Linked DNA regions of Homo sapiens: region 2 is linked to region 1. The links come from fine-mapping of genetic effects on gene expression. A gene starts in region 1. The other region holds a variant in brackets. All regions are shown on one strand. Distances are between the middles of the regions. Region 1 holds the start of SCPEP1 (serine carboxypeptidase 1). Region 2 overlaps SCPEP1 (serine carboxypeptidase 1).

Evidence for each region. PIP is the estimated chance that this variant, and not a neighbour inherited with it, causes the effect.
Region 2: its variant is fine-mapped to the expression of SCPEP1 in whole blood (TOPMed, PIP 0.93).

The regions. Positions count from the first base shown.
Region 1 is chr17:56,975,917-56,981,295 of GRCh38, forward strand. SCPEP1 (serine carboxypeptidase 1) reads left to right here and starts at 2,215. Exons shown (of 13, transcript NM_021626.3): 1 at 2,215-2,319; 2 at 5,166-5,314. The coding sequence starts at 2,244. LOC105371836 (a long non-coding RNA gene) reads left to right here. Exons shown (of 4, transcript XR_934875.4): 4 at 1-91. RefSeq lists a silencer at 2,098-2,157.
Region 2 is chr17:57,002,701-57,008,079 of GRCh38, forward strand. It overlaps SCPEP1 (serine carboxypeptidase 1), which reads left to right. Exons shown (of 13, transcript NM_021626.3): 13 at 3,473-4,068. The coding sequence ends at 3,535. Among named protein-coding and RNA genes, the nearest start is that of SCPEP1, 27 kb to the left of the region's middle. The variant A/G (reference allele first, on the strand shown) is at 2,687.

The DNA of each region.
Region 1 (5,379 bases):
CTGTAAGGATAACAAGCTTTAATCTGGTTTCTACATGTGGTTTTTGTTTATTTTGTTCCTGTGATTATAAACTGTAATGAAAAAAGAAAATGTTACTGTAATACTTGATATCATGTATTTATCCATGTATCCAACCTTCTTTCCATCCTATCCATCAATCCATCTTATATTCTGGATACTTTTTTTTTTTTTAAGAGACATGGTCTCACTATATTGTCCAGGCTGGTCTCAAACTTCTAGGCTCAATCAATCATCCCACCTTGGTCTCCCAAAGAGCTGGATTACAGGCATAGGTCACTGTGCCAGCATCTGGATACATTTCAAAGAAAATTGTATACATTGGTACACCTTCCCCTAAACACTTTAATATGAATATCATTAACTAGAGGTGACATTTTATTTATATTTTTTCCTTTTGAAGTCATATTAGCGTATTATAAAATGCACAATTTTTTTGTGCGTGTGTGAGATGGGGTCTTACTCTGTCACCCAGGCTGGAGTGCAGTGGCACCATCTTGGCTCACTGCAACCTCCACCTCCTGGGTTCAAGCGATTCTCATGCCTTAGCCTCCCGAGTAGTTAAGACCACAAGCAAGTGCCACCACACCCAGCTAATTTTTGTATTTTTGTAGAAATGGGGTTTCACTATGTTGGCCAGGCTGGTCTCAAACCCCCGACCTCAAGTAATCTGCCCACCTCGGCCTCCCAAAGTGCTGGGATTACAGGTGTGAGCCACCTTGCGCCCTGGGCTGTAGTGTTATTTTTGTGGCAAAAAAATTGAAACCCTAAAATTCTGACTGCAGTGGAAGGGTAAGTGTATTTCAAGCCCTAGTGATACAGACCAACTTGGAAGCTTCAGACAGGAAAAGTTTGCTAGATAGTTATTTATTTTTAACTAAGCATGTACTTTTATGTATCTCCCATATGGCATGGAACACCTGCTCACTGCAGCCTGGAGCTCCTGGGCTCAAGTGATCCTCCCACCTCAGCCTTCTGAGTAGCTTGGACAGCAGGCGCGTGTCACCACATCAGTTAATTTTTGTTATTTTTTGTAGAGAGGGGGTCTCAATATGTTGCCCAGGCATTATGGATTTTATGCATTCGGGACCATCCCATGCTTAAAGCATGACAGAACCCGGCGGCATATTTTTCTCTGCCGCAGCTTTCAGTGCAGGGGCACCTCACAGGCAGGGCGGGGTCAAGGCTCTGTCCAGACAATGGCTGCAGAGTAAAAAGCACTTCCATTTATGGGGGTCAAGGGCGAGGGGAGGGAGAAAGGAGCAGGGAAAGAGGAGAAGTGGCCACATGTACTTTGATTTGTTTTTTGCTTTTTGTTACATGTACTTTTGAAGCAGTATTTAGAAGTAGCCTCTCCTACAGCCCCTGCTGTAGCTTGTCTCCTAGCTGTGAGGTGAGTTATTCAGTACCCTCTAACGTAAAAATGACCTTCAGACAGACAGACAGACACACACACACACACACACACACACACAGAGGAAAACAGCTCTGTCATCCACTTTTTCTTCCTTTCCCGTCCCCAGACCCTCGATTCTCTCTTTAAAATGACTGCTGTGAAGATAACGTAACACAGAGTAATACTAATGACAAATTATCAAAAAAGAAAAAAAAAATAAAAATCTTTATTAGTGTTTTTTAAAATGACGTAAAAGACTATGGGAAAAAATGCCAACAATAGTTATGTATAACTTTTTTGTTCATATTTCCAAAACGTTTATAACATACATAACTTTAAAAGAAAAATAATTTAAAAAATACATATCTGAAAATGAAACCCCGCTGTTTGCCAACGACCAGCTGGCTTAATCTGACTTCGCAGATGTAGCAGTGTTGGAAAACGTCGGTTCTTTTGCTGAGGGAAGGAAGAGATGGGAGGGGTAGAAAGGGCGGTGGTTATTCCCTTTAGTATTTCGATCCGGTCACACAACCTAAATCCAACATCTGCATCAAATGTCTCCTTTCCGAAATACTCTCCCTAAAATGACAGAGAACCTGGCCAGGCGGACAGAACGGCCCCTGCGCATTTGCAGGGGTCCTGGTGGGCTTGCCGGGCAGAGGGCGTGCGGGTCTCAGCAAGCTGCCGGGTCCGCCCAGGCCCCGCCCCATGCCCATTCAGGCCCCGCCCCCGACCCGCAGGCCCCGCCCCCGACCCGCCCCGTCCGCCTCCGTCACGTGATGGGGCGCCGGGTCCAGCCTGTTGCTGATGCTGCCGTGCGGTACTTGTCATGGAGCTGGCACTGCGGCGCTCTCCCGTCCCGCGGTGGTTGCTGCTGCTGCCGCTGCTGCTGGGCCTGAACGCAGGTAGGTTCAAGCAAGAGGCGCACCAGCTGCCATGCCTCTTTTTTCTCCAGGCGTGAGAGTTTGTTACTGGGTTTGTGCTTTTGAAAACATGTCTCTTTTCCCCGGTTCTTACCTTGTGTAATTATATTGCTTTTGAATCTCACTCTTTTTTTTTTTTTTCCTTAAAAAATTCAAAGTGCTTTTTTTGTCCTTTTCTGGCTCTGGGTGGTCTGAGTGCTTCCGTTCTCTCCTACGCCTAGATAGAAGCTGTGTGCAGAAATGTATGATTTGGGGAAACTGCTGGTCAATGAGGTTTCCCCGATTCAAAGGCCATGATTGGCTGCTAAATGAGGATATAAGGTCGTTTTATTTTAAGCTGAAATCTGCGGTCAAAAGTACCCTTACATCCTACCACGAATGGGACATTTCATTGAGATAAGGCCCTTTCTTTTCTTGATCAAAACAAACAAGATAACATCTTCCCCCACAGCGATCTTTTTTGGCAAAAAACAGATTTGTGTTTAATAGGATGACTTGCAAATTGATTTTCAGCAAAACCTCTCCTAGTCTGAAGCAAGCACTGAGAATTGGAACTGGCCACAAGCTTGCCTTGTGACCTTAGGCAAGTTGTTGAACAGTTTTGTTTTCCTTTTCTAAAATGGGGATCATCTGGCCCTTAGGCGAGTGTCTGGGAGATTTTGTAAAATAAGTAGCTCTGCCAATTTTACCAGTAGTCACTGCCAGGCAAGGGAGAAGTGCCTGGGGTTAGGTCAAAAGGTACCTGCGCCTTATCTGTCATTCTCAAGGGAGCGCAGCCTTATCTGTTATTGTCAAGGACAATATAATCGTGTGTTACTTGTATATAGAACCTTATAGCTAAGTCTGTAATGTTTTAGTCATCTGTTTTGCTCCTCAGGACACTTTCTGGTTTTCTTAATCTTCATTGTTGTTTTGTTTTGAGTCAGGGTCTCACTATGTTGCCCAGGCTGGTCTGGAACTGCCTGACTCAAGTGATCTTCCTACTTCAGCATCCCAAGTAGCCCGGACTGCAGACACAGGCCACCACCCTGGCTCTTTCTTATTTACAAGACGTTGTCTCATTGTCTTCCTCTCTACTCCTGTCTCTTTAGCTGTTGGGACCAGTGTTCTTTTACTGACCAATGGGGCTTGAAATTTGAGAAGGGAGGAAATAGAAGGCAGAAAACTCCAGTCACCGAGGGGATCCCCCCCATCATCTTTTAACAACAGCCCCTCTACTTTTTTTTTTCCCAGAGTGGTTTTGGAGGAAAAAAAAAAAGATGCTATAACTTGGAAATTGTTACGTTAGCAAAAAGTGACAAAGAAAATGTATTTAGCCTACTCTTTTCTAAAACATATTTTGTGGATGCTAGAAAAGTTAAGTAAGGAAAATTGGAGTTAGGGGATTATAGGATACGTATATTAAACACACATACACAGATATATATCGTTCAGTTTAAAAAAATCATCTACATGAGTTAGGAAAATTGCCCTTTTTCATATTTGTTGTAGCTCTTTCCTTGCTGTTTGCCTTTTTATTTTTGATTTACAGAAATTTTGTTGTATAGAAATATAACAAGTTTCTGTTCTCACCTCCATCATTGTTTCTTTTGTACAGTCTCTGGGGTTTGCTTAGATTCTTTCCTCATCCAGACATTAGAAATATATTTAACTATATTTTTGTATTTTTTTAATGTTTAAAGTTTAAAATTTAATTGCTTGATCCTCATGGAACTTATTTCGTTTATAGTGTTGAGAGGACCTAAATTTCTCTTTTTTTCTCCAAAAAAGGTAATTGTTGCTCCATTACTGTATATTGAATATTCTCAGCCCCACTAATTTGTGATGCCTCTTCACTCATGTTTTTTGTTTGTTTGGTTGGTTGGTTTTTTGTTTTTTTGAGATAGGATCTCCCTCTGTCACCTAGGCTGGAGTGCACTGGTGTGATCACAGCTCACTGCAGCCTCAACCTACTGGGCTCAAGCGATTCTCCTACCTCTGTCTCCTGAGTAGCTGGGACCACAGGCATATGCCACAATGCCCAGCTAATTTTTGCATTTTTTGTAGAGATGGGGTGTTGCTATGTTGCTTAGACTGGTTTTGAACTCCTATGCACAAGCTATCAGCCTGTCTTGGCCTTCCAAAGTGTTGGGATTACAGGAGTGAGCCACCAAGCCTGGTGTCTTACTCATGTATTAAATACGATATAAAAACCAGTATATTGCATTCTGAGATTTTTACTTTTTTACTCAAAATATAAATCTCTCTTGTTTTTACAGAATTATAAAAGTATTTCCTGTAATCCCAGCACTTTGGTAGGCCTAGGCGGGCAGATCACCTGAGGTCAGGAGTGCGAGACCAGCCTGACCAACATGGAGAAACCCCATCTCTACTAAAAATACAAAATTAGCCAGGCGTGGTGGTGCATGCCTGTAATCCTAGCTACTTGGAAGGCTGAGGCAGGAGAATCGCTTGAACCCGGAAGGCAGAGGTTGCGGTGAGCCGAGATTGCGCCATTGCATTCCAGCCTGGGCAACAAGAGCGAGACTTCGTATCAAAAAAAAAAAAAAAAAAAAAAAAGTGTTTCATATTTATTGTTAAAAATCCAAACATTACAGAAAAGTGTAGAGGAAAAAGTGAAAGCCCCTGGCCTCCTATGCCGCTGTTAAGTTTGGTTTCTTTTTTCATAGCCGAGGTTTTTTCCTTATTCCTGCAATGTACTGGGGTGGCTAAATTACCAAACTATAAAACAAATCATCTCTAGCCTAGCATGGCTGTCTCTACCAGGCTTGGAATTTACCTGTACATTAGGCACTCTTCTGGAGAGTGAAATTGAACTTCTGTTTCAGGAGCTGTCATTGACTGGCCCACAGAGGAGGGCAAGGAAGTATGGGATTATGTGACGGTCCGCAAGGATGCCTACATGTTCTGGTGGCTCTATTATGCCACCAACTCCTGCAAGAACTTCTCAGAACTGCCCCTGGTCATGTGGCTTCAGGTAAAGTAGCTTCCCAGCCTGGCCTGAGGTCAAAGCCAAGTCTCCTCTGTGTGGCTCTTTGCTTG
Region 2 (5,379 bases), 27 kb after region 1:
TGTCTCAAAAAAGAACAAAAATCAACCGGGCACGGTGGCGCATGCCTGTGGTCTCAGCTGCTCAGGAGGCTGAGTGAGGTGGGCAGATTGATTGAGCCTGAAAGTTAGAAGCTATAGTGAGCCAAGATCATGCCACTGCACTCCAGCCTGGGTGACAGAGCGAGACCCTGTCTCAAAAAAAAAAAAAAAAAGAAAAATTAAAAAAGAAATACTTAGGGCTTGGGAGTGTTTTGAGTTTCCTAACAAAATTCCGCTATTAGCACTAGAGACTGCGAGCACAAGGGTGAGTGGTGCCCAGTCCCTGTCCTCAAGGAGCTTGTGGTCTAGAGACAGACAGGCAAGGAGACTGTCAACAGCTGGCTTGGCCCAGGGAAGGGTGCCCTGCCCAGGCATGCAGATCTGGAAGATTGTGCCCCACGTGATGCGTAGGAGTGATTTAAGGAAAGAGGAGGAGGTGGGGAGCATGGAGAGCAGTGAATACAAGGTCCACAGGAGCCTCAGACAGCGAGGACTTGGAATGGACACTGGAGGGAGGTGGCTGCAGAGGGGGAATTTTCATACCACTCTAAGGAGTTCAGACAGTAGGGCACCAAGCAGGGGTTTTAAGCAAAGGAGTGAAATTAACAGATTTGTCCAAGAAATACCATTCTAGCAGTAGAGGGCATGGGGCAAGCCTGGGGCCAAAGACCAATCAATGAGGCTGTCAGGTAAATCCAGAAAGGAGGAAAGTAGATGGATTTGGTGAAGTGTAAAGAAGGGAAAATTGGCAGGACTTGGTAATCATTTGGGGTAGAAAAGAACTGAAGGGTGGCTTGCAGGTTTCTGCTCCAGCATTGTGGTTTGCGATGGAGGGAATTTGCACAAGCTGAGTTTGAATTGCCTATAGAACAGAAGGCAGAAGAAGAGCCTACAAATGAGACTGAGAAAGGAGCAGCCAGATAAGTGAGAAGGGAGACCAGGGATGCGTGGCATCCCCAAAGCAGGGAGGGGCCCGCAGTGCTAAGTGAGAACTCAGGGGAAGGGCTGAAACGTGAGTGATGATGTGCTTACACCGATGTCCTTGGCACCTGCGTTGGTGAGATATTTTGGTGAGGTGGCAAGCTCAGAAGCCAGATTGGAAAGACTGGAGAAAATGAATGAGTAGTGAGGAGAAGAGACAGTAGCTTCCTTTAAGAAGCCAGAGAAAGCAGCCCACTCTCAAAAGACACTTAATCTAGGCTGGGTATGGTGGCTGACACCTGTAATCCCAGCATTTTGGGAGGCGAAGGCAGGTGGATCACCTGAGGTCAGGAGTATGAGACCAGCTTGGCTAACATGGAGAAACCCTATCTTTACTAAAAATACAAAAATTAGCTGGGCATGATGGTGGGCACCTGTAATCCCAGCTACTCAGGAGGCTGAGGCAGGAGAATCGCTTGAACCTGGGAGGCAGAGGTTGCAGTGAGCCAAGATAGTGCCATTGCATCCAGCTGGCGAGATAGCGCCACTGCACTCCAGCCTGGGCAACAGAGTGAGACTCTGTCTCAAAAAAGAACAAAAATCAACTGGGCGCGGTGGCGCCTGCCTGTGGTCTCAGCTGCTCTGGAGGCTGAGTGAGGTGGGAGGATTGATTGAGCCTGAAAGCTTGGGTGACAGAGTGAGACTCTGTCTCAAAAAGTAAATCAATAAATAAACAAATAGACTTAATCTAAAGGGAGAACAAACAAGGCAGCAGGGCACAGAGGGAGAGGGCATTATTTATGGCTCTCAGGATCTGAGTACCTTCAATATTGACTAAAAGAAAGAAAATTAGAACGTCTTAGAGCAAGCACTGTTACAGGTTGAGTACCCCTTATCTGAGATGTTTGGAACCAGAAATGTTTCAGATTTTTAATTTTTTTTTTATTTTGGAATATTTGCATATCCATAATGAGATATCTTGGGGATGGGACCCAAGTCTAGGCAATGGAATTCATTTATGTTTCATATACACCTTATACACATAGACCGAAGGTACTTTCGTACAATATTTTAAATAATTTTGTGCATGAAGCAAAGTTTGTGTGCACTGAGTTATTAGAGAGCAAAGGGTGGCTATTTCAGCCACCCATGGCTCTTCAACCAATCTGTGGTTGTTAGGCATCATATCATTTCTGACTCCAAATTTATATGCTGCCGATAAGCAATCTTTTTCTTGCATGTAGTCACACATAAGTACTTCACAGTAAGAAATACAACATACCATTAATACAGTGGAAAAGTTGTGTGTTCAGAGTAACTGAGCAGCACAGTAGCATGACCAGAATACCTGTGTCAGCTGCTAGACAACAGCAACAGCAAGCAACAGCAGCTTTCGGTCTCTACCTACAATGCTGTGTTTTGATTAAAAGGTTACTGTACTGTAACCCCCTTGGGGATGCAGAAATAAACTGTGTGTTGTGCGCCTGCATTTTGAATGCAGCCGCCCATGGGGCAGGTGTGAAATGTTCCACTTGTGGCCTCATGGTGGCACTCAAAAAGGCTGGAATTGTGGAGCATTTTGGATTTTCCAATGAGGGATGCTCAGCCTGCCCTAGAGAGAAGTCCCTGACGAGGCTGGTAGGAAGGCATGGAACAAGCCAACCACGCGCTCTGTATACTAGAGTTCAGGCCCATTTCCTGTTGGTTTGTCACATATAGAACAACAGATCAGTTGGGGACAGGCTTA[A/G]AATAGCCCTTGGAGACTGTTGTTAAGTCGTCCCCAAACCACTTCCCCTTTCATTGATTAAATGACATTTTAGGATAACCCACCTTGCCTGTGCCTCCTGGGGACTCTTGGCAGAAGAGTCAAGGATGGGTGTGCCATAGAGAATCATGGAGCCAGGGAATTACATAACGGGGAGACCATATACTCCAACCCCTTCTGTGTAGGGAGAAACTGAGGCCTCTGCCCTTCCCCCTTTTGATGCTGTGTGGGAAGGAAATTTTAAAGGACTTATTCTAAAAATCTGAGGGAAAACAAAAGAAAGTTGAATAACTGCGAAAATCGGATGCCACCCAAAGGGCCCTGTTTGTTTTTATTATTTGCGGCTCTCTGCTGTGAGCTCCCTTCTCAGCCATTTCTCTATTCTCAATCCGGGATCCCTTCTAGACAGATGCCTTTAAAATGTTTAGAATCTTCCTTCTTCCTTGAACAGGCTAGGTCTAGTATCATTAGCATGACCCTTACCAAGAAATCAACAGATCAGCTCCAAATGGAGTAGAAGGTTCTTGTCTTAAATGCTGACTTCTCCAGGTCCCTGCCACCCAGCCCAGTCAGGGCCCAGAAGAGCTTTCATCCAGTGCAGGAGTCATTTTCAGGAAGGACCCTCTCTCAGGGATGTGCCCAGGTGTCTGCACAGGTTGCTGTCACAGAGCTGGCTCCCTTTTGGGAGCAAGGTTTCAGGATGTTGCCTCTGACCCCAGCCCCAGGAATAGCACCAGGAGCACTAACTCAGATGTTGTTTTTTTCTAGGTTCCTTCTGACCAAGGGGACATGGCTCTGAAGATGATGAGACTGGTGACTCAGCAAGAATAGGATGGATGGGGCTGGAGATGAGCTGGTTTGGCCTTGGGGCACAGAGCTGAGCTGAGGCCGCTGAAGCTGTAGGAAGCGCCATTCTTCCCTGTATCTAACTGGGGCTGTGATCAAGAAGGTTCTGACCAGCTTCTGCAGAGGATAAAATCATTGTCTCTGGAGGCAATTTGGAAATTATTTCTGCTTCTTAAAAAAACCTAAGATTTTTTAAAAAATTGATTTGTTTTGATCAAAATAAAGGATGATAATAGATATTATTTTTTCTTATGACAGAAGCAAATGATGTGATTTATAGAAAAACTGGGAAATACAGGTACCCAAAGAGTAAATCAACATCTGTATACCCCCTTCCCAGGGGTAAGCACTGTTACCAATTTAGCATATGTCCTTGCAGAATTTTTTTTTCTATATATACATATATATTTTTTACCAAAATGAATCATTACTCTATGTTGTTTTACTATTTGTTTGACATATCAGTATATCTGAAACACCTTTTCATGTCAATAAATGTTCTTCTCTAACATTTTTAATGGCTGTGGAGCATTCTACTTTATGGTTGTACTCTAGTTTATTTACAAAATTCCCAGTTGTTTCCGACAAGTATAATAATTTCTAGTTTGTTGCTATTATACATAGTGCTCTGTTGATTCACCCTGATAGTTAGATTTTTTTGTACCTCCTTATTTTCTTAGAATAAATTCATAAAAGTGTAATTATTTAGTCAGAGGATTGCCACATTTCCTTAAAATCAAAATAATTAGCTCAGGACTTTTAACTTTTTATTCATAGCTCAAGATCTACATAAGGAGGTTTGATGCCGTGGCTCACACCTATAAACCCAGCACTTTGGGAGGTCGAGGCAGGAGGAATGCTTGAGCCCAGGAGTTCAACAACAGCCTGGGCAACATAGGGAGACCCCATTTCTACAAAAAAAATAAAAACATTAGCCGAGCATGGTGGCACACACCTGTAGTCCCAGCTACTCAGGAGGCTGAGGCAGGAGGATCACTTGAGCCAGGGAGGTTGATGTTGCAGTGAGCCATGATCAAGCCACTCACTCCAGCCTGGGTGACAGAGACCCCATCTCAAAAAGAAAAAAAAATCTGCATAGGGGATCTAACAGCTTCTAGGACTGTCTGAAAGAAATATCACCTCTTGTAGTTGCAGGGCTGAGATTTTATTTATTTATTTATTGAGACTCTGTGACCCAGGCTAGAGTGCAGTGGCACAATCATGCCTCAAATGATCCTCCTGCCCCAGCCTCCCAAGTAGCTAGTACCACAGGCAAGCACCATCACATCCAGCTAATTTTTAAAATTTTTTCGTAGAGTTGGAGTCTCACTATGTGGCCCAGGCTGGTCTCGAACTCCCAGGCTCTAGCAATCCACCTGCCTTGGGCTCCCAAAGTGCTGGGATTACAGGCATGAGTCACCAAGCCTGGCCAAAGGCTGAGATTTAAAAAAACAGCCAGGCACGGTGGCTCCAGCCTGTAATCCCAGCACTTCGGGAGGCCAAGGCGGGCAGATCACGAGGTCAGGAGATCGAGACCATCCTGGCTAACACGGTGAAACCCCATCTCTACACACACACACACACAAAATTAGCCAGGCGTGGTGGCGGGCACCTGTAGTCCCAGCTAGTTGGGAGGCTGAGGCAGGAGAATGGCGTGAACCCGGGAGGCAGTGCTTGCAGTGAGCCGAGATCGCGCCACTGCACTCCAGCCTGGGCAACAGAGCAAGACTCTGTCCCAAAAATAAATAAATAAATTAATTAATTAAAAAAAATAACAAACCCAAAGCTTATTCCTGCAGACTGTGAGGAAACAGTTAACAGCAGGTTAT